Linked DNA regions of Homo sapiens: region 1 is linked to region 2. Evidence: fine-mapped expression QTL. A gene starts in region 2. The other region holds a variant in brackets. All regions are shown on one strand. Distances are between the middles of the regions. Region 1 holds the start of MITD1 (microtubule interacting and trafficking domain containing 1). Region 2 holds the start of TSGA10 (testis specific 10).

What was found. PIP is the estimated chance that this variant, and not a neighbour inherited with it, causes the effect.
Region 1: its variant is fine-mapped to the expression of TSGA10 in whole blood (INTERVAL, PIP above 0.99).

Annotation. Positions count from the first base shown.
Region 1 is chr2:99,177,814-99,189,385 of GRCh38, reverse strand. MITD1 (microtubule interacting and trafficking domain containing 1) reads left to right here and starts at 8,328. Exons shown (of 7, transcript NM_138798.3): 1 at 8,328-8,555. The coding sequence starts at 8,405. It overlaps MRPL30 (mitochondrial ribosomal protein L30), which reads right to left and starts at 8,202. Exons shown (of 6, transcript NM_145212.4): 1 at 8,137-8,202; 2 at 3,132-3,209; 3 at 1,129-1,209. The coding sequence starts at 3,182. RefSeq lists a silencer at 7,821-7,993 and enhancers at 8,211-8,260, 8,281-8,510, 8,521-8,660. The variant G/T (reference allele first, on the strand shown) is at 6,668.
Region 2 is chr2:99,147,924-99,160,289 of GRCh38, reverse strand. TSGA10 (testis specific 10) reads left to right here and starts at 5,348. Exons shown (of 21, transcript NM_025244.4): 1 at 5,348-5,597. C2orf15 (chromosome 2 open reading frame 15) reads right to left here. Exons shown (of 4, transcript NM_144706.4): 4 at 8,621-9,807. The coding sequence starts at 9,731. The coding sequence ends at 9,456. It overlaps LIPT1 (lipoyltransferase 1), which reads right to left and starts at 5,323. Exons shown (of 2, transcript NM_145199.3): 1 at 5,239-5,323. RefSeq lists enhancers at 4,746-4,795, 4,826-4,905, 4,986-5,185, 5,216-5,445, 5,506-5,705 and 1 more.

The sequences.
Region 1 (11,572 bases), 29 kb before region 2:
TTTCAGCTATATTACATTCTAGAAAAGGCAAAACTATGGAGATAATAAAAAGATCAGTGCTTGCCAGGGGTTAGGAGTTGGGAAGGATAAATAGGTGAACCACAGGTGATACTTAGGGCAGTGAAACTATTCTGTATAATACTGTAATAGTGGATACATGACATTATGCATTTGTCAAAACCCATAGAACTTCACAACATGAAGACTGAACACTAGTGTAAACTATGGTATTTAGTTAATAATACTGTGTCCCGTTGGTTCATCAGTTGTGGGGGACACTGTATATGCTGGGCGGAGGGAGCACATAGGAACTCTCCATACTTCCCAATCAATGTTTCTGCAAACCTAAAACTGCTTTAAGAAATAAAGACTATTAATTAAAAAACAAATAAAAACAGGCCAGGCGCCTGTAATCCCAGCACTTTGGGAGGCCAAGGCGGGTGGATCACTTGAGATCAGTAGTGCAAGACCAGCCTGGGCAACATGATGAAACCCCATCTCTACTAAAAATACAAAAATTAGCCGGGTGTGGTGGCACGGGCCTGTGGTCCCAGATACTCTGGAGGCTGAGGCACAAAAACTGTTTGAACCCGGGAGACGGAGGTTGCAGTGAGATGAGATTGCACCACTGCACTCCAGCCTGGGCAACAAAGCAAAACTCTCTTTAAAAAAAAATTTTAAACAAAAATCAATGGCGGGCTTAGTCAATATTATCTAAAAGAATGATAGGTACACAGAAATGAAATAGAAAAAGCTGAAAGATCCAAAGTAACAATGATCGATACGGAAAGTGAAAATGAAGAGTGACACAGTGAGAGCCTGAGTAGGAAGACCCACTGCTTTCTCAGGACAATGGTGATACCAACACACATGTACAAACCACAAGCAGGAATAAGTAGACTGAAATAATAAAAACCCATTACTGTGAAGGCCAGTGACACAAGTGACAGAACAGTTTTATTTTTATGATCACCATTCACATAAATCCCACTATGCTTTAAACTCTGTACCATCACCTACATCCACATATAATTTAACATAAAATCTTCCAATATTACAAAAACGGGTACCACTTAAAACATTTTTTAAAACAACACTAACATTAAAAAAATCAAACTTTGTTCTTACTTTTTCTGGAATTCTTGATCTGGTGAATTTGTGACGAATCCAATCTGTACAAATAAGAGACTCCACACCTTTTGTCACAGTCTAAAATATGATATAAATCATTTGTTTTTTAGAATTCTGTCAGTAGAGAAATCCATACCCACCAATCTTTAGGTAACAGAAGTCTGTTCCAACCTACCCTATAATTATTAAAGGTATATCTTAGCTCCCTAGCTGAGTGAACGCATCCCATCTAAGCACTAACATAATATAAAGCTAAAAGCATATAAATATACTTTTAGACCACGGATTGGTAACCGTTTTCTGTAAAGGACCAGATAGTAAACATTTCCAGCTCTAGAGCTATGTAGTCTCCATTGCCAAAACTCAGCTTGGCCATCACAGGGTAAAAGCAGTCAGACAATATGCAAACTTTTCTTTTTTTTTTTTTGAGACGGAGTCTCGCTCTGTCACCCAGGCTGGACTGCACTGGCGCAATCTCGGCTCACTGCAACCTCTGCCTCCTGGGTTCACGCCATTCTCTTGCCTCAGCCTTCTGAATAGCTGGGACTACAGGCGCCCACCACCACGTCCAGCTAATTTTTTTTTGTATTTTTAGTAGAGATAGGGTTTCACCGTGTTAGCCAGGATGGTCTCGATCTCCTGACCTCGTGATCCGTCCACCTTGGCCTCCCAACGTGCTGGGATTACAAGCGTGAGCCACCGCGCCCAGCCGGGTGTGGATATTTTTCAATAAAACTGTTATTTACAAAAATAGGTGGGAGGCTGAATTTGGCCTAAAGGCCATAGTTTATCAACTCTTGCTCTAGACAATGTGCAATAACTCACATTTAACAAGACAATACAAAAGAAATCCAAAATGAGTTTCTAGTTTCCCTCCTAGTTCTAACAATGTCATCACTCCTAGTTCCTACCTCTTGTTCCTGCTCTACATTCCTCCAATCCCATTTCTCTCAGGCTGCTGAAGAAAAAGGATTCACTGCCAACCTTTCATACCAGGATACTGCTGTGGGAATGGGCAACAGTCATTCCCATCATTCCCTCCCAGCATTTCCTGCATTGCAGAGATGGCATAAACCACTAGAAGACAGGCACTGGGCTGAGTTCTGCTGCCTACCAGCTGTGAGACATGAGACACTTACTCTCTCAGAGGGTCAGTTTCCTCAGCTCTAAAAAGGAACTCATATTGACCTCACAGGATTAATCTGAGGTTAAGGTAATATATACAAAGCCCCTTACATTGTTGTCCTCTGCAGCCAGGAGCAGGTCAATAGGCTCATCTAGGCTCTGGCCCTTATGAGCAGATTAGGCAGCACCACTGCACTTTCTAAAAGCAAGCCTAGAAGGAGACACATGAAAATACTAACACTGAGGGTCTCTTACAGATTATTTCTCTTCCTTCTGATTTTCTATATTTTTCTAATATTTTATTATTGAAAATGCACTCCTTCCATAATCTAAGGGGAAAAACAACCTAAAACTTTAAGATTAAGACAGACCAAGGGGAATCAATGACAGCCATTTTTTATTGGCATGTTTTCCAGAAAAAGATCTTTTTTGATTCTAGATCTTTAGGGATAAAACAGCAGAAAAACCATACATAAACAAGATTAACTCTCAATATCTAAACCATTTCGAAAAGGAACTGGTGAAATAACTTAATTTTGGGTGGCCGGGGCAGGTGGATCACAAGGTCAGGAGTTGGAGACCAGCCTGGCCAATATGGTGAAACCCCCGACTATATGAAAAATACAAAAATTAGCCAGGCATAGTGGCAGACACCTGTAGTCCCAGCTACTCAGGAGGCTGAGGCAGGAGAATTGCTTGAATCAGGGAGGCAGAGACTACAGTGAGCCCAGATTGTGCCACTGCACTCCAGCCTGGGTGACAGAGAGAGACTTCGTCTCAAAAAAATAAAAAAAAGAACTTAGCTTGCCTTGTAATGATTAAAAAAAAAATTCATAAGGGGTAGAAAAGACAAATTCTTGAAAAGAAACACTTACCTGTAGTCTGCCTGGGGGCCATTGAACTACTAAGCGCAAAATCCCAGCCATAAGTGTAGTGATTGCTCTCTTTAGAGGCTGTGGGAAGTAGGAAGTAGACCCATCAGTCAACTATGTCTTGGAAATGAACAGGTTTCCCCTTCTCTAGTATTAAAAAACTAAGCAGCAAATTAATTGTAAACTTAACAGTAAAATTATTGGTTATTTTAATATAATAAGGGCACGAATTAATTTATAAATGTTTTATTCAACCACAGGTAGTAATTATACACATTAGCCACATCCCACTTTCATCAAATGAGTCAGTCCTAGATTGATTCCACAAAATTACTATCATTTAAAGTGTCTTCTTCAACAATGAAGGCAGATAAAGAATGCTTTGCCATAGAATCACAGAAAATTAAAGAGCTAGAAGGGACTGAAGAAATTCCAACTCCTATAATTAGAACTGACTGCCCACATCCTTACTTTATGAATGAGGATCATGAATTCCAGAAAGTTCAATAACTTATCCAAGTGCATCCAGCTATCAATAAAGTTTGTGGTCTGGAACCCCATTCTCCTAATTCCTAGGCAAGTGCATTTTCACTAAATCATAACACCTTTCTGTTAAAAAGTAGAATTTTTTTTGCTTGTTTGTACTTTTTAAACTATTCTCAATGCACACGCATTGCTTCTATAACCTAAAAAGGTCATATTTATTTAATTACACACAAAACAACTGTAGCCTACTATACTGACTTATACTGATAGCAGAAAGATTAAGTTCATGAACTACATGTATATCTCGGACAGGTTACTTAATTCGTGCGTTACAATTTTTCCCCCAGAAAAGAAAGAAAATACCTGTCTTGCAAATGAGTTATTCTACAAAGCACCTAAAACAGTACCTGGCATGTGGGAAGCCCTCAATAAATAGTAGCTTTTATTATTATTAAATTACTACAAAGCTAATAAGAATACTCTTAAAACTGCAGTCCCCAACCTTTCTGACACTGGACCAGTTTCATGGAAGACAATTTTTCCACAGATAGGGAGGGGTGGAAGGGAAGGTTTCCGGATGAAACTGTTCACCTCAGATCATCAGGCATTAGATTCTTATAAGGAGCATGCAATCTAGATCCCTTGCATGCACAGTTCACAGTAGCGTTCACGCTCCTATGAGAATCTAATGTTGGACTGCTCTGACAGGTGGTGGAGCTCAGGTGGTAATGCTCACTCAACCACAGCTCACCTCCTGCTGTGCCATCTGGTTCCTAATGGGCCAGCAAATGGTCTGGGTCTAAGGCCTGGGGTTTGGAGACCTCTGCTCTAACACACTAAAATAGGCTAAGTGTTGTAATTCAGTGTCCCGCAGATTCTAGCTCATTCAAGTTCTGCAAGTCTTTCCTGTGATGTGGATAAAGCAACGGAACTGTGAGAATCAACGCAAGACATCTCCTGAAGACAGCCAGACCTCAGAAACATTCCTCAGCAACTGAACCTATCTAATGCTAAATTATTTTACCAGACTTCCTCGTATCAAGGTTAGGTACTTAATCCAACATACTTAGCTTCACACTTTAAAAAATCTTTCTGATCACTTAGATCTCAACAAAATCCTAACTGGACTTCTGCTTCCATTCCAATTCCCCTAATATCTTTTTTGTATATCAGCAATAAATCATCTCATTAAATCTTAGATCATGTCACTCTGCTCAAAAATCTTCCAGAGAGCCAGGATTCTCACTGTTGAAGTGGGAGGTTACATATAAGCAAGAGGGGAAGGCTACAATGATCCTTATATACTAGATTGGAAATGGAACTCATGTTTAGCTTAATATAGCTATTGAGGGATATAGAAGTAATTACAGATATGCATATATACATGGGCTAGCTCTGTTAGCTGAGAGGACTTAAAGCACTAGCACTCAGTGGCAAGGAGCACACCCAGTGCCCAGATCTTGGCTGCATTCTTTAATAAAAGGAACCAGTGCTCCTTTGAGAAATGGCTGATTATGTCTGGAGCACTTTGTAATGCTAGAAAGGAACTACTGGAAAAAACATAACGATGGGGTATGTCAAAGTGACACTGCAGTCAACTGTACCCAAAGCTGGAACAATTTCAGCAACAAAATAAGTAACAAAGTATTACTGGCTTATAATCCAAACCAAAATAAATAAATAAATAACCCTAAATTCATACTAATATAAATAGGTGAATAAGTTAATGAGAAAGAACAAATATCCCATTCAGAAGAATTCCAAATAATTTATGTAGGTACTCTCTTCCAGTATCTTCCCAAACACCTAACTGCCTCAAAACTGTCAATGATATCAAAAACAAGGAAAGTCTGAGAAACTGTCACAGTTAAGAGGAGCCTAAGGAAGAAGTCATGACCATTAAATGTAATGTGGTATCCTGGATGGGATCCTGGAATAGCAAAAGGACATTTGGCAAAAACTAAGTAAATCTAAATAAAGTATGGACTTTAATAACGTATCAATATTGGTTCATCAACTGTACACAGGTATACCAAACATGAAAGGGGGAAACAGTGTAGCATATACAGAAACTCCATACCATCTTCACAACTTCTTTGAAAATCTAAAACTATTCAAAAATAAAGTTTATTTATGAAAAAATTAAAACCTCCAATGCTTGTCCATTTTGATCACAGTGAAAATCAATTTTTTTTTTTTTTTTGAGACAGAGTCTCGCTTTGTCACCCAGGCTGGAGTGCAGTGGCCCAATCTTGGCTCACTGCAACCTCCGCCTCCTGGGTTCAACCGATTATCCTGCCTCAGCCTGCTGAGTAGCTGGGATCAGAGGCACCTGCCACCACGTCCAGCTAATTTTTGTATTTTTAGTGGAGACGGGGTTTCACCATGTTGGCTAGGCTGCTCTTGAACTCCTGACCTCAGGTGATCCGCCCGCCTGGGCTCCCAAAGTGCTGGGGTTACAAGCATGGGCCACCACCCCCAACTCTAATTCTTAACCCTCACCCTCTCATGTCTTTGTAGTACAGCACTACCAACCTTCCCCACCTCCAGGACTCCATCTCCAATTACTCTCTTGCTCAATCACCAGACATGCTGCCCCCCTTGTTTGATCTAGAACTAGTCAAGCAGGCATGCTCCCTTTGACTGACCATTCCCTCTCCTGGAATGATCCTGATATTTACATGGCTAATTTCCTTATCTTTTTCAATTTTTGGGTCAAATCTCACCTTTTCAATGAGGTCAACCCAGATCACATCATTTAACATTTTCACCCATACCCCAACTGTCAACACTCCCAATTCCTCTTCACTGCTTTCTATCGTGCTTATCTTCTAACGTAACTTAATTATCTGTTAGGTTTTGTTGTTTAGTGCATGTACATTCAATAGCACGCTAATTCCATAGGAAAAGGGTTTTTAGATTTTGTTGTTTTGGGTCTGTTATATTCATAGAAGTATCCCAAACATCTGTGTAAAGCGGTATCTGCCCTATAGCAGACATATAATATATTTTTGCAGAATAACTGAAGTTTAAATATTTACAGACTTCTGAAG[G/T]TGTGATAGTCAAAAGTTACAAGTTTTTAGAGACAGAGTCTCGCTATGTTTCTGGTATTGAACTCAGCCTCAAGCAATCCTCAATTTTCCCAGTAATTGGAGCTAGGTGTGTGTCACCACGTTTGACTCAAAGAATACGTTTATTTTATCTTATTTATTTTTTTGAGACGGAGTCTCGCTCTGTCGCCCAGGCTGGAGTGCAGTGGCACGATCTGGGTTCACTGCAAGCTCCGCCTCCCGGGTTCACGCCATTCTCCTGCCTCGGCCTCCCCAGTAGCTGGGACTACAGGCGCCCGCCCGGACGCCCGGCTAATTTTTTGTATTTTTAGTAGAGACGGGGTTTCACCGTGTTAGCCAGGATGGTCTCGATCTCCTGACCTCGTGATCCTCCCGCCTCGGCCTCCGAAAGTGCTGAGATTACAGGCGTGAGCCACCACGCCCGGCAAGGAATACGTTTTAATAAAGTAAAAGTTACTGTTAATAATTAGGCACGTAACTCCTGGACCCTGAAACAATTACGCTGTCTTCTGTAAAACAGGAAAATATCAGGCATCACAGGAGAAGTATGATCCCATTTCTATTTTTTTAAATGTCTGTGAACGTGTGTAATCACAGAAAAACTCTGGAAGGTTGTCAGAAAAACGTTAACATACCCCTGGGGGTATGAAAAAAGGCGTTTTTCCTCCCCCTTCTCCCCCCCAGCGACCGATAGTTCTTTTGTCTTTTTACAATGAGCATGCATGCAACAGGAATGTTAAAAATCGATTTCTTTTTCTAAACCGACAATGTATACAATTATTAAAGGGGGAAAAACACTTCTGAAATGCAAAACATGGAATCACTCTTGCAGAGATACCAGAGATCTCTGAAAGCTGGAAGCGTGTCTCTTCTCTGAACTCCTAGTGCCTAACAAGCAGTAGGCAGCCCTCATTACTGCCTCTTGGCAAAAAGGGCAGAACAAACAGCTTTTGGTAGGTCTCGATCAAAATGGTAACAAATCACAGTTTTAATAAAATGGCAAATATTCTAACTGCCAACTCTTGGATGTTTGCATTATAAAATGAAGCAATACAAAGATAAAGGCAATTTTCTGTCTTCATTAAAAAAAAAAAAAAGCAACCTTAATACCCAGTGGCAACCCTAAGTTATGAATAAAGCAGCAGCACAGAAAATGCTGCTTGGGTTCCCTTTCCCAAGCTGTCCAGCCTCGGCGGCTCCGTTCTTGAGCTCCAAGAGTCTGGGCACAAAAAGCCGCGTGGCCCTGGATCCTGCAAATTGGGAAACGGGGGGATCCTGCAGGCCAATGGCCTTACGGGAGCCAATGTGACGGGATCAGGGGCAGACCCATTTAGGTTGCCGTAACCGGCCAATTCAGTACGCAATAGGGAAAATCAATTAGGATCTGCAGAGGGTTCCCGGATACACCTTGCGAAGAATGCCGCACTCTCCGCCACTCATTCCCCACTCACCGGCACCCGCTAAACCTTCAGCCTGAAATTTTCCTCCGAAGGGAAGCAGAGCAGAGGAAGAACTACCAAGTGCTACACTCAAAGCCTGCCGTCGCAGTGAGCGCGACCTCCAAACTGAGGCATTTTTGTTCCGGCGAAATCCCTCCCACTCAGGAAAGTCCCTAGAAAGAGAGCGCAGGCGCCTGGGTATCACATGACCACTTCCCGGAAGCGCAGCAGACCCGCTCAACTTCATCCTGGGTTGAGGCGGAGGAGAACTTCCAGAATTATGGCGAAGTCCGGGCTGAGGCAGGACCCGCAGAGCACAGCTGCAGCCACTGTGCTAAAGCGGGCAGTAGAACTAGATTCGGAGTCGCGGTATCCGCAGGCTCTGGTGTGTTACCAAGAGGGGATTGATCTGCTCCTGCAGGTTCTGAAAGGTGAGCAATGAGCCAAGGCGGGGAGGACCTGAGGAAAAGGAGCTGGTTCCTGCTGTGTCTGGGGTGAAGTGAAAGAGTTAAAAATGATTTTTCCACACCACGAAGAAGCAGTTAAATACAGAAGGTGGGATATTCTATAGGACAACTGGGCCGCTTTCTTTTAGATCTTTAATAGATTGATGTTACCTAGAAAAGGTGGGGAGGCTACTAGTCTAGATTTTAAAAGACTTAAGAGATATAAGATATAACGCAATGTAATATATAAGCTTTGATAGGACCTGGGTTTGTACGAACTTTAAAAGACATTTTTGGATCTATTAGAAAAGTTTGAATATAGATTGGGGGGCATTAAAATTATTTTCTTAGGCAATATGATTTTTTTTCCAAAACTTTCCTTAATTTTTAGAGATGCAGACCAAAGTGTTTTAGAAAGAGATGCTATGATGTCTTTAGTTAATTTTCCTTAAGCAAAAATTTCTTAAAAATCGAAGCTCTATTTGAGCAAAAATGCTAATTTTAAAAATTTCGGTGATGGGTAATAAGGGTGTTTATTATACGATTATTTTTAATTTTCTGTTTAAACATTTGCATTTAAAGCAAGCCAAAGTAAAATTATGTAGCGGTAGAAGAAGAAAAGTTTTTCTTAAACGGATGAGGTTCGGTGTGAGAAATGCGCAGGGTTGTGGAGGAGACAAGTGAGACTTTTCGTATTATTCAATGTTGAGAAATACCCAAATATTCCTTAACACCCAGCACAACCCTGGCTCACAGTAGACACTCAATATTTATGTATTAAATTGATAAGATCAGCTCCTGCTCCCCAACCCCCGACACTCCCGGTCTGGACTAAGCTCCCTCTGTTCTTTCTAGTTTAAGCTTCTTATAATTAAAGTGTTACAGAAGCTTTGGGGCAGCAGAGGGGAGCCCTTTATGGTTTGGTGCTTTGGTCAGAACTACAAACTCTACCGGCCGGGCGCGGTGGCTCACTCCTGTAATCCCAGCACTTTTTTGGGAGGCCGAGGCAGGTGGATCATGAGGTCAAGAGATCGAGACCATCCTGGCCAACATGGTGAAACCCCGTCTCTACTGAAAATACAAAAATTAGCCGGGCATGGTGGCACGCACCTGTAGTCCCAGCCACTTGGGAGGCTGAGGCAGGAGAATTGCTTGAATCCGGGAGGCGGAGGTTGCAGTGAGCCGAGATCGCGCCACTGCACTCCAGTCTGCCAATAGAACAAGACTCCGTCTCAAAAAAAAGAAAAAATAACTGTAAACTCTACCTTGCCTGGGGCATTATTTGATGATAATGATGACAGTGACAACAGCAATAAGCATAGATATCACGTTTCAGTGCTGAGTGCCAGGCATTGCAGAAAACATTAAAAGCATGATCTCGTTTCATCCGTACCAATTGCCCTATCAAGTAGGAGTTGATGGTATTCTCGTTTTACAGCATAAAAAGTATTGTTCGCTTTCAAGTTCTGCCACTAGGAGGTGGTAGAGTCACAGTCGGAGCCCAAGGCCCCAACGACTCTGGTATACTGAATCCCAAAAGAGAGATGGTGTACTGTGTTGGTCAGGTGGAACACTGCTCAAGTTTTGGCTGCACTAGGAATCTGAAGCAGGAGAATCACAGTTCTGCTCTAGGGTGCTTCACTGATCCCGTAGAGGTTACAGAGACAATGATGTCACATAGATGGGTTAAGACCAAAATGCAAATAGCGCTAATACAGGGAATAAGTGCCAGGAGAGAGATATCTATAGATAAACGCAATGAGGATTTAAACAGTTAAAGGTCATGTGAGGGTGGAAAGGTAGAGGTGGAGTTTGATTGGGGCTTTGGAGGAAAAATAATTTCAGAAGTCAGAAATTCATCTAAGAGTCTTCAAATTCCTGTGCTGTCTTACGAAATAAGTAGTTTGGTTGAGCATGTATCTGAAGAGGAAGAGTGAGAAGTAAAGTTTAAAGGTAGATAGGGGCTTGGATCACATTGAGGATGGCCTTGACTACCAGGAGATTTTAACTTATTCCACAGGCAAGGAGAAACCATTTAAGGTTTTTACAAAGGAGTAACATAATTGGAGTTGCATTTCAGGGCTTGTCTCTTTCAGGAATGTGCTCTTTTCTCACAGATATTTATTTGCATGGCACACTCTCTCTCCTATTTCAGGCCTTTACACAAATACCACCTTCTTTGTGAGGCTTTCCCAGACCTCCAGTGTAAAATTATAACCCCATCCCAGCACTCCCTGTCCTCCTTCATTATTTTATTTAATAGCACTTACCTCAATCTAATATACATGTTTTGCCAATTTATTTTTATTGTTCTCTTCCTACTTGAACAATAGAAGAGAATTTTGTCTGTTTTACGAACTGCTGTATCCACAGCACTTAGAACAGTGCTGGGCATGTTGTTAGTTCTCAATAAATATTTCTTGAATAAAGGACTGAATATGGCAAGGATGTAAAGTAGACATTAACCTGTAGAGACTGAAGTTAAGCAGACCAATTAAGGAGCTCCTGCTGGAATCAAAATAAGAGGTGTGTATAGCCATTATAGAAAACAGTATGGAGATTCCTCAAAAAATTAAAAAGAGAACTACCATATGATCCATTGATCCCACTACTGGGTATATATCCAAAGGAAATGAAATCATTATGTTGAAGAGATATTTGTACTCCCAAGCTTACTGCAGCACTATTCATAATAGCTAAGATAGGGAATCAACCCAAGTGTCTATCAGCAGATGAATAAAGAAAATATGGCACATATATACAGTAGAGTACTGTTCAGCCATAAAAAATGAAATCCTGTCATTTGTGACATGGACAAACTTGTAGGAAATTGTTAAGTGAAATAAGCCAGACACAGAAAGACAAATACCACATGATCTAACTCATATGTGGAATCTAAAAAAGTTAATATCATAGAAGTAGAGAGTAGAATAGTGGTTACCAGAAGCTGGGAAGGGCAGTGGGTAGGAGGAATGGGGAGAGGTTGGTCAAAGGGTACAAAA
Region 2 (12,366 bases):
ACTACAGGTATGCGCCACCATGCCTGGCTAATTTTTAAATTTTTTGTAGAGATGGGGGTCTCCCTACGTTGCCTAGGTTGATCTTGAACTCCTGGGCTTCAGTGATCCTCCTGCCTCAGCCTCCCAAAGTGCTGGGATTATAGGCATGGGCCACTACACCTGGCCCCAAATCATTTAGTTAAGTAATATCTTAGAAGTACAATTCTAGATTAAAGAGTCTTCATATTTTCATCACTCTTGTTGTAGTTTATAAACTAACCTACAAAAAGTTGAATCAGTTTACATTCTGTCTAGAAAGGTGTGGAGAGGTTTAATAGAGGAAGGAATACTTGAACTGAGTCACCAAATCTGATAAGTTTGCCAGGTCGAGGAGCATATTCCAGGCATATGCAAAGACAAAGAGTCATCTAATAGTAAGGTATGTTTGGGGATTCCCTCCTAAGAGAAAGAGTTACACTACTAGTCTTCGACTTCCACTTAAGCCTATGGCTATACTGTCCTAGGAAGCCTCGCAACCGAGACTGCATTACTTTGGTTAACCTCTTTGTTCTTGGTTCTGCTTGACTGACTTTGACACAGTACCATATTCATTCAACAAGTATTTATGGAGTTCCTACTAGGTACAAGGTAATAAGGAGATAGAAAATGGGAGGAGATAAATTCATGTAATGAACCAAAATATTTGGACTTTTTAAAAGGCAGCTAAGATCCACTGAAGTGTTAAGCAGGAAGTGTTAACTCAGCTGTTATACGAATCTGCCTCTGCAGGGTTGAGTATGGATTAAATAAAGGATGGACTAGGGACAGGGGGAACAGTTAATGGACTAAGGCAGTTGTCCATGCTAGAGATAATGAGGGCCTAAAGTACGGTAGGAGAGAGAGAGAGAGAGAAGGGGATGGATATGAGTGACATTAAGAAGGTGAACTGGCCGGGCGCAGTGGCTCATGCCTGTAATCCCAGGACTCTGGGAGGCCGAGGCAGGCGGATCACGAGGTCAGGAGATCGAGACCATCCTGGCTAACACAGTGAAACCCCGTCTCTACTAAAAATACAAAAAATTAGCCGGGCATGGTGGCAGGTGCCTGTAGTACCAGCAGCTCTGGGAGGCCGAGGCAGGCGGATCACGAGGTCAGGAGATTGAGACCATCCTGGCTAACACAGTGAAACCCCGTCTCTACTAAAAATACAAAAAATTAGCCGGGCATGGTGGCGGGCGCCTGTAGTCCCAGCAGCTCTGGAGGCTGAGGCAGAAGAGTGGTGTGAACCCGGGAGGCGGAGCTTGCAGTGAGCCGAGATCGTGCCACTACACTCCAGCCTGGGCGACAGAGCAAGACTCCGTCTAAAAGAAAAAAAAAGAAAAGAAGGTGAACCTGTCCTTGCCTTCAAGAAACAAGTACCTCCACAATCTAGTGGGAGATACTAAAAAACAAGTAAGGCAATAATTAAAATACAGTGTCCTAAATGCTGTGATAGGTGTTAAGTACAGTAGAGCGCCATCTAATGCTCTAATTAGTGGATGTGACATTGAAGCTGAGACATAAAAGGGATAAAGAAAAGAATTCTAACAATGTGCAACAGCTTAGTGGAAAAGGAGATAGGACCCATGCAAATAATTTAATTCTACTGGCTGGTTATTAGGAATACAAGAATGGGGAGTTAATAAGAAGGCAAGAGAAGTAGATGTTAGATTATAAAGAACCTTAAATCCAAGTGAAATGCTTGAACTTTATTGCCCAGGATGGAGTGCAGTGGTGTGATCACGGCTCACTGCAGCCCCGACCTCCTGGGCTCAAGCAATCCTCCCCCTTTAGCCAGCATGTGCCACCACGCCTGGCTATTTTTTTTTTTTTTTTTTTTTTGTAGAGATGAATCTCACTTTGTTGTCCAGGCTGGTCTCAAACTCCTGGGCTCAAGCAGTCCTCCTGCCTTGGCCTCCTAAAGCACTCGGATTACAGGCATGAAGGCTTTGGATTTATACTTCAGGGACACCGCCTAGAGATTTTAAGCATGGAGAATGTACAATACTTGGCAATAGGTTGAATTAGGGTGAGAGAAAGAGAAGTCAAGCATCATGTCCTTTATGATATAATGATTACAAGCTCAAACCAGAGTGCCCTCATTCAAATCCCAACTCTATCCTTTATCAGTTGAATGACCTAAGGCAGATTACTTTTCTATGTCTCAGATTTGTTATCTAATATGTGGATAATGACAGGACTCATCTCATATTATCAGGCTGAGTCTGATGAGCTAATACATATAAAGTGGTTAGAAGAGTGCCTGGCACTGAAGAAAGTACACAATATGTGCTAACTATTTTATTAATATTATGCCCTGATTTCTGGCCTGGCAAAGAGGTGAAATTTCCTAGGACAGATTTTATAGGAAGAGGAAGTATGGGGTTAAGATAATTGGTTCATTTTGACTGTTGAACTAGCGGCCAACGGCACAGAGCTCAATGGATGGTAACTGAGGCCACAGGAAGGTGGTTCAGTGAGAAGATTTAAGGGCCTGCGACATAAGACTGAAGAGCAGCAACATTTAACGGACATACAGAAGAAGGAGGGAGAGCTCCCAAAGGAAGCTGAGGATAGAAGAAAAGGCAGAAAAATTTTAAATATGCTATTATGGAAGCTTCAAGGAGACAAGATGGTCAACAGTGCCAAATGCCAAAGATTGAGCAAATAAGATGAGGGTTGAAAAGGATCTATTAAACAGTATCAAGAAGGTTATCAGTGATCTTGGTAAGAACCAGATGTACTGAGTAAATAGGAGGCCCAAGGTGGATACAATGAGGGTATTCTAGTTGTGAAGTGGAAAAGCTAGGGCAGTAGGTAGAAAGGAATGTGGAGTTAGGAGAGGACTTAAGATGCAATAGATCTGAGCATGTTTAGATGCTGGTAGGGGAGTCAAGAGAGGGCAACACTGGAGAAGGGAGGTCCTTGAGAAAGTGATGGTACTGGGATCCAGAGTTCAGGTAGGGGCAGCCTTAAAGGAGAAAGTAACAAATAGGAGTGGTGGTCACTAATAAGCTGGATGGTGTCTGTGGATATGGAAATTGTCAAAGATCTTGTGAAATATCTTTTCCCAAGATTAAGGCTCTTACTCTTGTCTGCATGTGCAGAGTGTGGCAGGATGGCAAAGTAGTTAAGGACTTAAATTTTTAATCCTGGCTCTGCCACTTACTAATGACTTTAGGGAAGTGGTTTAACCTCTAGCTGCTTCAGTGGCCTCAGACGTCATAAAATGGTTGAGAGAATTAAATGTGTTAATATGCATAAGCCATTCATGTTTGGCAAATATGAAATGTTAACTGTTATGACAGGGTTCTCCCTTTCCCATCTCTATTCTGTGCTTACTGTTCCTATCATATACCATGTATTCCCTCAAGTGAACAAAGATTCCTAACCAAGACACATCAAAGTGGCATTTACCTTGATAAATTAACTATAGTCCAAGATATTGACTTTGGTCAAAAATGTGATCTTGTTAGGGTTCCAGAATTGATCCAATTCATGTATTGAGCCAATGCATGTATTTTAATAGTGCTAAAAATATCTCTCTTCATCCAGGTATTGTATATACAGTGTGAATAAAACACAACAAAGGTATTAATTCAACAAAGTTTTCATCAATTACATGACAGACATTGTTCTTAGCACTTGGGAATCATCAGTGAGTCAAATGAATAAAGGTGATAAGGAGGGCTATTAAAAAAAGTAGATGGCCGGGCGAGGTGGTTCACACCTGTAATCCCAGCACTTTGGGAGGCCAAGGTGGACAGATCACCTGAGGTCAGGAGTTTGAGACCAGCCTGGCCAACATGGTGAAACCCCGTCTCTACCAAAAATACAAAAATTACCTGGGCGTGGTGGCAGGCGCCTGTAATCTCAGCTACTCGGGAGGCTGAGGCAGGAGAATCGCTTGAACCCGGGAGGTGGAGGTTTCAGTGGGCCGAGATGGGCTGGGCAACAGAGCGAGATTCAGTCTATTAAAAAAAAATGTAGAGCTGATAAAGGGAGGATTGTAACTGTGTATGTGAGAAAACTTACATTGCAATTTTAAATAGGGTTGTTAGGCTAAGCCTCATTAAAAAGGCATCATGTGAGAAAAGATGCAAGAAGCTGTTCTAAGCACCTGAACACGTAAACCAATAAACAGACCTCAGTGAGGATGTGACATTTCAGTTGAACCCCGAAAGATAAGAAAAAATCACACAGAGTGAGAAAAAGTGAAAACAAAGGGATGTCCAAAAATCCCTGACTGCCAGCTTATTGATTTACAAAGAGAACTATAGACCATCTATCAGATATTCAGATGAGCCTGTGCAATTATTCACTGTAGGTCTGGTGACAAGCCAACTCTTAAGTTTGCTTGGTGAATACATAATCAGAAAAGGACTGAGTTACATGATATGAACGTCTGACGGAATGGGCTCTGGGGAAGACACTTCCTTAACTCAGGAGAGCCCCTGCTCTTAAGCCGGGATACCCTCTCTCCCCTAGAGAAGGCGTGGATTCATCTGGCACAGGTGTGCCCCTCTTTTTTTATTCTATGCTCCAGTAGCGGATCAGACCCCGACTGAGTAATGCACGGTATTTCAGGATATTTCACAGTCGTTGGGATAGTGTCAAGCCTTTGAAGTTCTGGTTAAATTTTGTTCCTTCAAAATCACTTTGAATCTTTCTACTCTCACCCTTTAATGACTAATTTTTTGAAGTTTTTCCTCGGAAGACTTCCTTACCTTCCATGTTCTTGGGACACTTCGCTACCTCTGCACTGCCAAACACGGCTCCCCATCACTGAACTGAAAGCGAAAACAGCACAATCCCATCTATCTTTCTAGGCAGGCGCAGCTTCTTCATAAGACCTCGCCAAGACCCTATTATTTTGTCCCCTCTCTAATGATATACAACTTACTCAGAATCTCATTACGGTCGTGTGCATGTTTTACTTCGCCCTTTTGGCTCCCAGGGGGCGTGCACACAGCTAGCGTCCAACATGTTTTACGATATTTACCCTCCCTCCTGTGTTCGGGATCAACCGTTCCTAACAGTGAAATTAGGTCGTCCCAAGTGCTGAGGAGAAAGTGTGCACACAAGAGGCTTCAACACCGGCGGAGGCGACCCGCAAGTCCTGACCCACCGCCAGAAACACCGCGCGCGCCCAAGACCCCACGGCCGCCCACGCGCTACGGCCCGCAACATCCCGGTTTGAAGCGTTTCCGCTTCACCCACCTGCGGCTTCCGGTCGTACCCACGGCCTCGTGAGGGCTCGAGCTGGAAAAGTGCGTCATACGACCCCGAGCAACCGGCAGGCCTTGCGCGCGATGCTGCCCCGCCCCCTGAGGGCCGGCCCCCTGAAGCGCAAGAGAAGGAGGGGCGCGCAGGGATCGCGCCTAGTCTCTCCGCCTGCGGAGCCGTGGGGTCCCGGCAGCCCGCAGGAGTGCTAAGTAAGGGTCCTTCAGGGCGGGAACCAGGTTCCAGGCAGGGACGCAGGCTACGTTCGAATAAAAGTACCGAAGGTCATAAGGCCCCAGTTCAGATGGGACTTCCCCGCGTGACAGCACAGAGATAACGGCCAGCCCTGGGCGAAGGTAGGAGAGCGGGCGTGCCAGGTTGGAGGGGTCATTTCGTGGAGCGAGTTTAGGGGGAGCCCCCAGAAGCCCAGAGCAGTCAGGTCACACGACGGGCAGGAAGGAGTACCAGCAAATACTTTTTATTGAGCATACAGGTATTACGCTGGGTCTTTACATATCTCCTCCAAATAAGTGAGTCCAAATGGCAGGTAACTCGAAAGGTGAGAAATTCAAGTCAGCTTTGAAAGACACATTGCATTTAAAGGAAAAACGGTATTCGCAGATGATAATACAGGATGGAGTGGATCAGAAAACACACTGAGGCTACTGATCATTCCCATTTGCCAACTCACTGCAGTTGGCAAGAAAACTCTGTGACTCCATGAGATGGGAAATTACACCAGCAGTCAAGGTAGCAAGGTAATAGTTTCGGCTAAGTTTTGCTGCATAACAAACTGCCTCAAATAGTGGTTTATATCTCTAACGTGGGCAAGGTGGGTGATTCTTCTGCTAGTTTCTCCTGGGCATATTCATGTGGCTTCATTCAGCACAGGTTGGCTACGCTGGGCGGTCCAAGATAGCCTTATTCATGCTCTGGCAGGTGCTGCCTGGCTGCTAGGGCATCTCAATTCAGGCCTAATCTTGGAAGCAGCGCCTCAGCCATATTCTATTGGCCAAAACAACAACAAAGCCAGCCCAGAGTTAAGGCGTGGGGTAATGGACTTCACCTCTTGATGAAAGAAGCCCAAAGAATTTGTGGTCACCTTTTTCAACCTTGCACAGAAATTAATCTCTCCTTCAGTTAAAATAGAAACCACTAAGACTTGCCTCTTGGAGTAAGAATCATTCAGTGTTCAGTTTGCTGATGCTGATACGGTAAATGACCAGGGCTTCATATAAAGCTACAATGAAGACATAATGACACCTCCTTTCTTTATTATCACACCTTTTACCAAGGTCACTCTGAGTAAGTCTATCTTGTATTATGCAGGTGGGAATGAATTTTGTTCAGAGTTAACTGCACTAGGAATTTTCCTAGTTATTATTAAAAACAGTCACAGAATATTGTTGCTCTTTGCTTATATTACTTCCTTCTAAATTCCCTTTCTCTGAAATCTGAGATGGTACAACTTTGGTTTTTTTTCCTAGTTTCTTGATGAAGAGGTTTTAAAGAATCCCATTCCCTCCTCCCTGCTCCAGGACTTCTGTCCCTTGGTTATTCTTACCTTTACCTACTTCTTCAGCTTCTCCACTGGAACCTTTCAAGTGACACTCAAACATGCTGTACTCTTTAACAATCCTCCAGTGACCTCATTTCTCTTTCCACTTGTCATCCTGTCTGCTACCCTTCTGAGCCAAGCTTCTTGGAAAAACTGCTATACATCCAGTATCTACTTTCTCACTTCCCATTCATTGTTTCAACGTACTCCAAAATGGCTTTTCCCCATTATTCCAGCAAAAGTGCTTTTGCTAAGGTCACGGGTGACATTCATATTGCTAGATCCACTGGACTTTTCAGTATTCATCTAAGTGTTCATTTGACTACCTCAACCTGGAGATTCCTGTGGACAACTTTGACATTACCCTGTCAACTCCTCAGTCCCTTTTGCCAGGTTTTCCTCCAGCCTCACTGCCAACTCCGCAGTCCCCTTTGCCAGCTACCCTGATCTAGTCAGCCCTAAATGTTGGAGTTCCTCAGATCTTTATCTCACACTACATTTTCCTTAAGCAATTTCATTCATTCTATGGCTCTAAGTACCATTTCTGTATACAACTTCAAAATTTATATTTTTTAGTTCCATAGATACAACTGCCTTGTAAACCTGGTAAGTCTAAAAGCCATGCTCCTGAACTCACTCTTTCCCCCCAGGGATCCTGCATGCATAAAGGCTAAAGCCTTTTTTGCCAGAAGCCCTTTCTTCTTCCTCACTTTCCGCTTCCAAACCATGACTACATCCTGTCAGACTTCACCTGGACTCTATCCCCTTCTCTCCACTTTTATGACCATCACCATCATTCACTTAGACAACCATGTCACTGCAAAAGCTATAAATGTCCTCAGAGGCTGCTCTATGGAGTAGCCATTCTGTTTCTTTACTTTCTTAATCAACTTGCTTTCAAAAATGTCCTGAGATACGCTTTCCCATTTCCCACGTTAAAATCAAGTTTATGGCCCAGTGGGAGGATCACCTGAGGCCAGGAGTTTGAGACCAGTCTGGGTAACATTGTAAGACTCTGTCTCTAAAAAAATACAAAAACATGCTGGGTATGGTGGCACATGCCTGTAATCCTAGCTACTAGGAGGCTGAGGCAGGAAGATCGCTTAAGAACAGGAATTCGACACTGCACTGAGCTATGATCGCTCCACTGCACTCCAGCCTGGGCAACAGAGTGAGACCATCTTAAAAAAAATCAGTTTTATGTGGTATGTCTTGTGTTGTGTTATGTCCCTCTGAATGCTATACGTTTCTTCATGGCATATCACAATTTGCATCTTATATAATTACTGTATAATCTCCTGTCTTTCCTAGTAGACAGGCACAAAACTCTACAAGGCACTGGCTATTTTATTCACTACTGTATCTCCAGCACCAAGCACAGTGCCAGGCTAGGTGAACAAATGAATGATTTATGTATTTTTTTTCTCTTCTAAAGAATTACGTTCTGTAAATAATAAAAAGCATTGTCTTTTTGGCTTATGTCCCATTCAACAATTGTTTTTCACTCTCAATATTCCCTACAAACACATTTGTTTAGTATTTTTCTGATTAATAAAATATAGCTTCCCCCCGGAAAAGATGCCCTTTCCTCTTTTAAAATGAATATTAAAGAGATTTCCAACTACCAGATATTTTCATAACTGATATACAAAACAAGGTTTTTAAACAGGTTGTTTTTTCTCATATTAAATATTGGTGACATAAAATGGTACCATCTGCAAGACAAACTATTAACACTTGGAAAGAACACTTTTCTAACTCTAAAATGGATTCTATGTGGGGGGAAAAAGCAGTTTTAAAGGCACGATTTAAAATGTGAAATCCTTCTGAAGATATGCAATTTATTGGTCTTTTGCAGTTTATTGGCAGTGATCTTTTACAGAACAAAAATGCAAAATGTAAGAAAGTAAAGTATCATAAAGCAGAATCCCAAAATGGAAATGTAACATACAAAACTGATACACCAGAAATATTGTGAAATACGGATGTCACATTGCTTGGACTTTTTTTTTTTTTTTTTTTTTTTTGAGACGGAGTTTTGCTCTTGTTGCCCAGGCTGGAGTACAATGGCATGACCTCAGCTCAGTGCAGCCTCCGCCTCCAGGGTTCAAGCGATTCTCCTTCCTCAGCCTCCCAGGTAGCTGGGATCACAGGTGCCCACCACCATGCCTGGCTAACTTTTTGCATTTTTAGTAGAGATGGGGTCTCACCATATTGGCCAGGCTGGTTGCGAACTCCTGACCTCAGGTGATTGACCCGCCTTGGCCTCCCAAAGTGCTGGGATTACAGGTGTGAGCCACTGCGCCCGGCTGCTTGGACACTTTTTTTAACCACTTGTTAAAGAAATACATTAAAATGAAAATGTTTTGATGCCATTCAAATACTGTTACTTAAAAACTCTGGTTTTTAAGAAGGATATAATATAATACCAGAGAAATCTGCTTTGAATCTTGGAAGGCTTTTTCACCCTAAAGCAACTGCCTTTTGAATAAGCATCATAAAAAAATGCAGTGTAAGATGATTCACAAATAGTGCAAAATAAGGCAATAGTCTTCCATCATTTTGTCAGGGTTTCCTAATAAGGTTAAGTTCTCTTTCAACACCCCCCTTAGTCAAAGGCAGTTTTTGGTTTCTTTGGTAATACGTACAAATTGCTTCATTCCACATCTGTCATTTCTAGTCCATCACTTTCTTTGACATATACCACTGAACCCAAGGCTTTCCCAGAAAGAGATCCTGTGCCAGTCCCTTCAATCCTTGTAAAGTTTTCTTGATTTGTGTCTTCTAATCTTATTTTCTTGGTGTTTTGAAATAACTGAGTCGCTGGTTCCAACCTGCTTTTTTCAGTCCCTCGTATTAAGTGATCATCCACTTTTGAATCCATATGTATAGCAGATACCTGAGTAGCAGATTTACTAAGTGAAAATCCCATTAGGATAGCTGAACAAATGTGAAAGTAATTTGCAGGTACCTTTTTAAGTAGTGGAAGTGTTTCTTCAACTTGATTACTGAAAAAAAAAAAAAAAGTAACAAGTGAATGCAGCAGGAATTTCCCTAACTTCATGGCAATGTTTGTTTGAATGAAAAGCTGTGGTGATACTAGAAATATAAAGTAAAATTGCCTCCTACCTTTCAGTGTTTACATTTTCTTTGTGGGAGGGTTTGCAGGTTCTAAAGATTTATTTGAAAGTCTTTTTAAAAGGAAATTTATCTGATTGTATGTTTTATCACCTTTCAGAAAATAGTAGAGCTTCTCTTAGTCCTTTCTTTCATTCTTGCTAGCGAAACCTCTTTATTCATTACTAATGGGCTAAAGAAATAACGACTGAAGGCCAAGTACTCTGCTAGTACTTTATTTTCTGTAAAAAATAAAGATGTCCTATAAAGATACTTGTGATTGGCTGGGTGCGGTGGCCCACGCCTGTAATCCCAGCACTTTGGGGGCCGAGGCGGGTGGATCACCAAAGGTTAGGATTGAGAGACCAGCCTGGCCAACATGGTGAAACCCCATCTCTGCTAAAAATACAAAAATTAGCTGGGTGTGGTGGCATGCACCTGAAATCCCAGCTATTCAGGAGGCTGAGGCAAGAGAATAGCTTGAACCTGGAAGACGGAGGTTGCAGTGAGCCAATATTGCACCACTGCACTCCAGCCTGGGCGACAAGAGCGAGACTCTGTCTTAAAAAAAAAAAAAAAAAAAAAAAAGATACTTGTGATTAAGGATGTCTAGTCTGTAAAAAGAGATGATCGGCCGAGCGCAGTGGCTCACACCTGTAATCCCAGCACTTTGGGAGGCTGAGGTGGGTGGATCACGAGGTCAGGAGATCGAGACCATCCTGGCTAATATGGTGAAACCCCATCTGTATTAAAAATACCAAGAATTAGCCGGGCGTGGTGGCGGGCACCTGTAGTCCCAGCTACTCGGGAGGCTGAGGCAGAAGAATGGTGTGAACCCGGGAGGCTGAGGTTGCAGTGAGCCGAGATCGCGCCACTGCACTCCAGCCTGGGCGACAGAGCGAGACTCCGTCTTAAAAAAAAAAAAAAAAAAGATGATCATGTAGCATGGAGGGAGGCCTTGGGAAGTTTCCCAAAGGAGGGGAGCCTAGGTTAGGGTTTCGCTTTCAAAGATGGGCAGGAATTTGGTAGGCAGAGTTGACCAGGATGGCAGAAGGGACAGGCTTCCTGTACAGAAAAGGTTTGAGAAAGCCCAGGGCTTACTGGAGAAGAGTGATCTACCCAAGATGCTATAGTAGCAACCTGAGATCTGGAGCAGATTCCACAGCTTCGATCGAAATCCCTCACCCATTTTTTTTTTTTTTTTGAGATGGAGTTTCACCCTTTCACCCAGGCTGGAGTGAAGTGGTGCGATCTCGGCTCACTGGACCTCCACCCGGCAGGTTAAAGTGATTTTCCTGCCTCAGCCTCCTGAGTAGCTGGGATTACAGGTGCCCGCCACCAGGCCCAGCTAATGTTTGTATTTTTATTTTTATTTTTATTTATTTTTTTTCCAGTCTATATTTTATTTATTGTGGTAAAATATATATAACATTTACCATTTTAAACACTTTTAAGTGTACAATTCAATGACATTGAGTACATTTACATTTTTGTGCAAACATCATGGTCATCCATCTCCAGAACTTTTAATCATCCCAAACAGAAACTCTAACGTTTGTATTTTTAGTAGAGACGGGGTTTCCCCATGTTGACCAGGCTGGTCTTGAACCCCTGACCTCAGGTGATCCACCCACCTCAGCTCCCAAAGTGCTAGGATTACAAGCATGAGCCACTGCGCTCAGCCTCACCCACTTTTTAGAATGTATTATGTCTTTAATATTTACCTACTGTGGTATCTTTGATAGTTTACAATTTCATACTCATCAAGCTGTAATTACTGACTGAACATTTCTAAAGAATCATCTTGAAACCCTGTTTATCCATATTTGTGACTGAATATCAGTGTTTATAACAAAACAGAGTCCTGGGTCTACTGTAGTAGCCTAAATATAGTACTTACTCAAATATTAATATAACAATTAGGTAAATAGTATATATTTGGCTTTCTGGGACTCAAATACAACTTAGCTAAATTTTTTAATATCTCTGATGAAATTCTGAAATATGGGTATATTTGATTTTTAGATTTGGAACTTGAAGATGAATTTTTCTTCCTCATCAAAGGAATATCTAATACTGCCTTCAAATGAATAAAATTGAGTTTATTCTATTTGGTTTCTCTTTTTCTTAGAAAGGAAATACTCCTGTCAAATGCATAACTTGAATCTAAACATGAGGAAACAATCAGATAAACCCAAACAGAAGTATCTTCTATGAAACAAATAGCTTCTACCTAAAAATGTCAATGTTATGAAAGACACAGAGAGGCTGAGGAACTGTTTCAGATTAAAGGAGGCTAAAGATACATTATTTCAGATGCAACCAATGCTCTTGAATTGGGAAGGGGATGGAATGTACTACAAAGATCATTACTTAGATAACTGAAACATTTGGATATGGGACAATATTAGATAATAATATTGGATCAATGTGATAAATGCCATGAATAT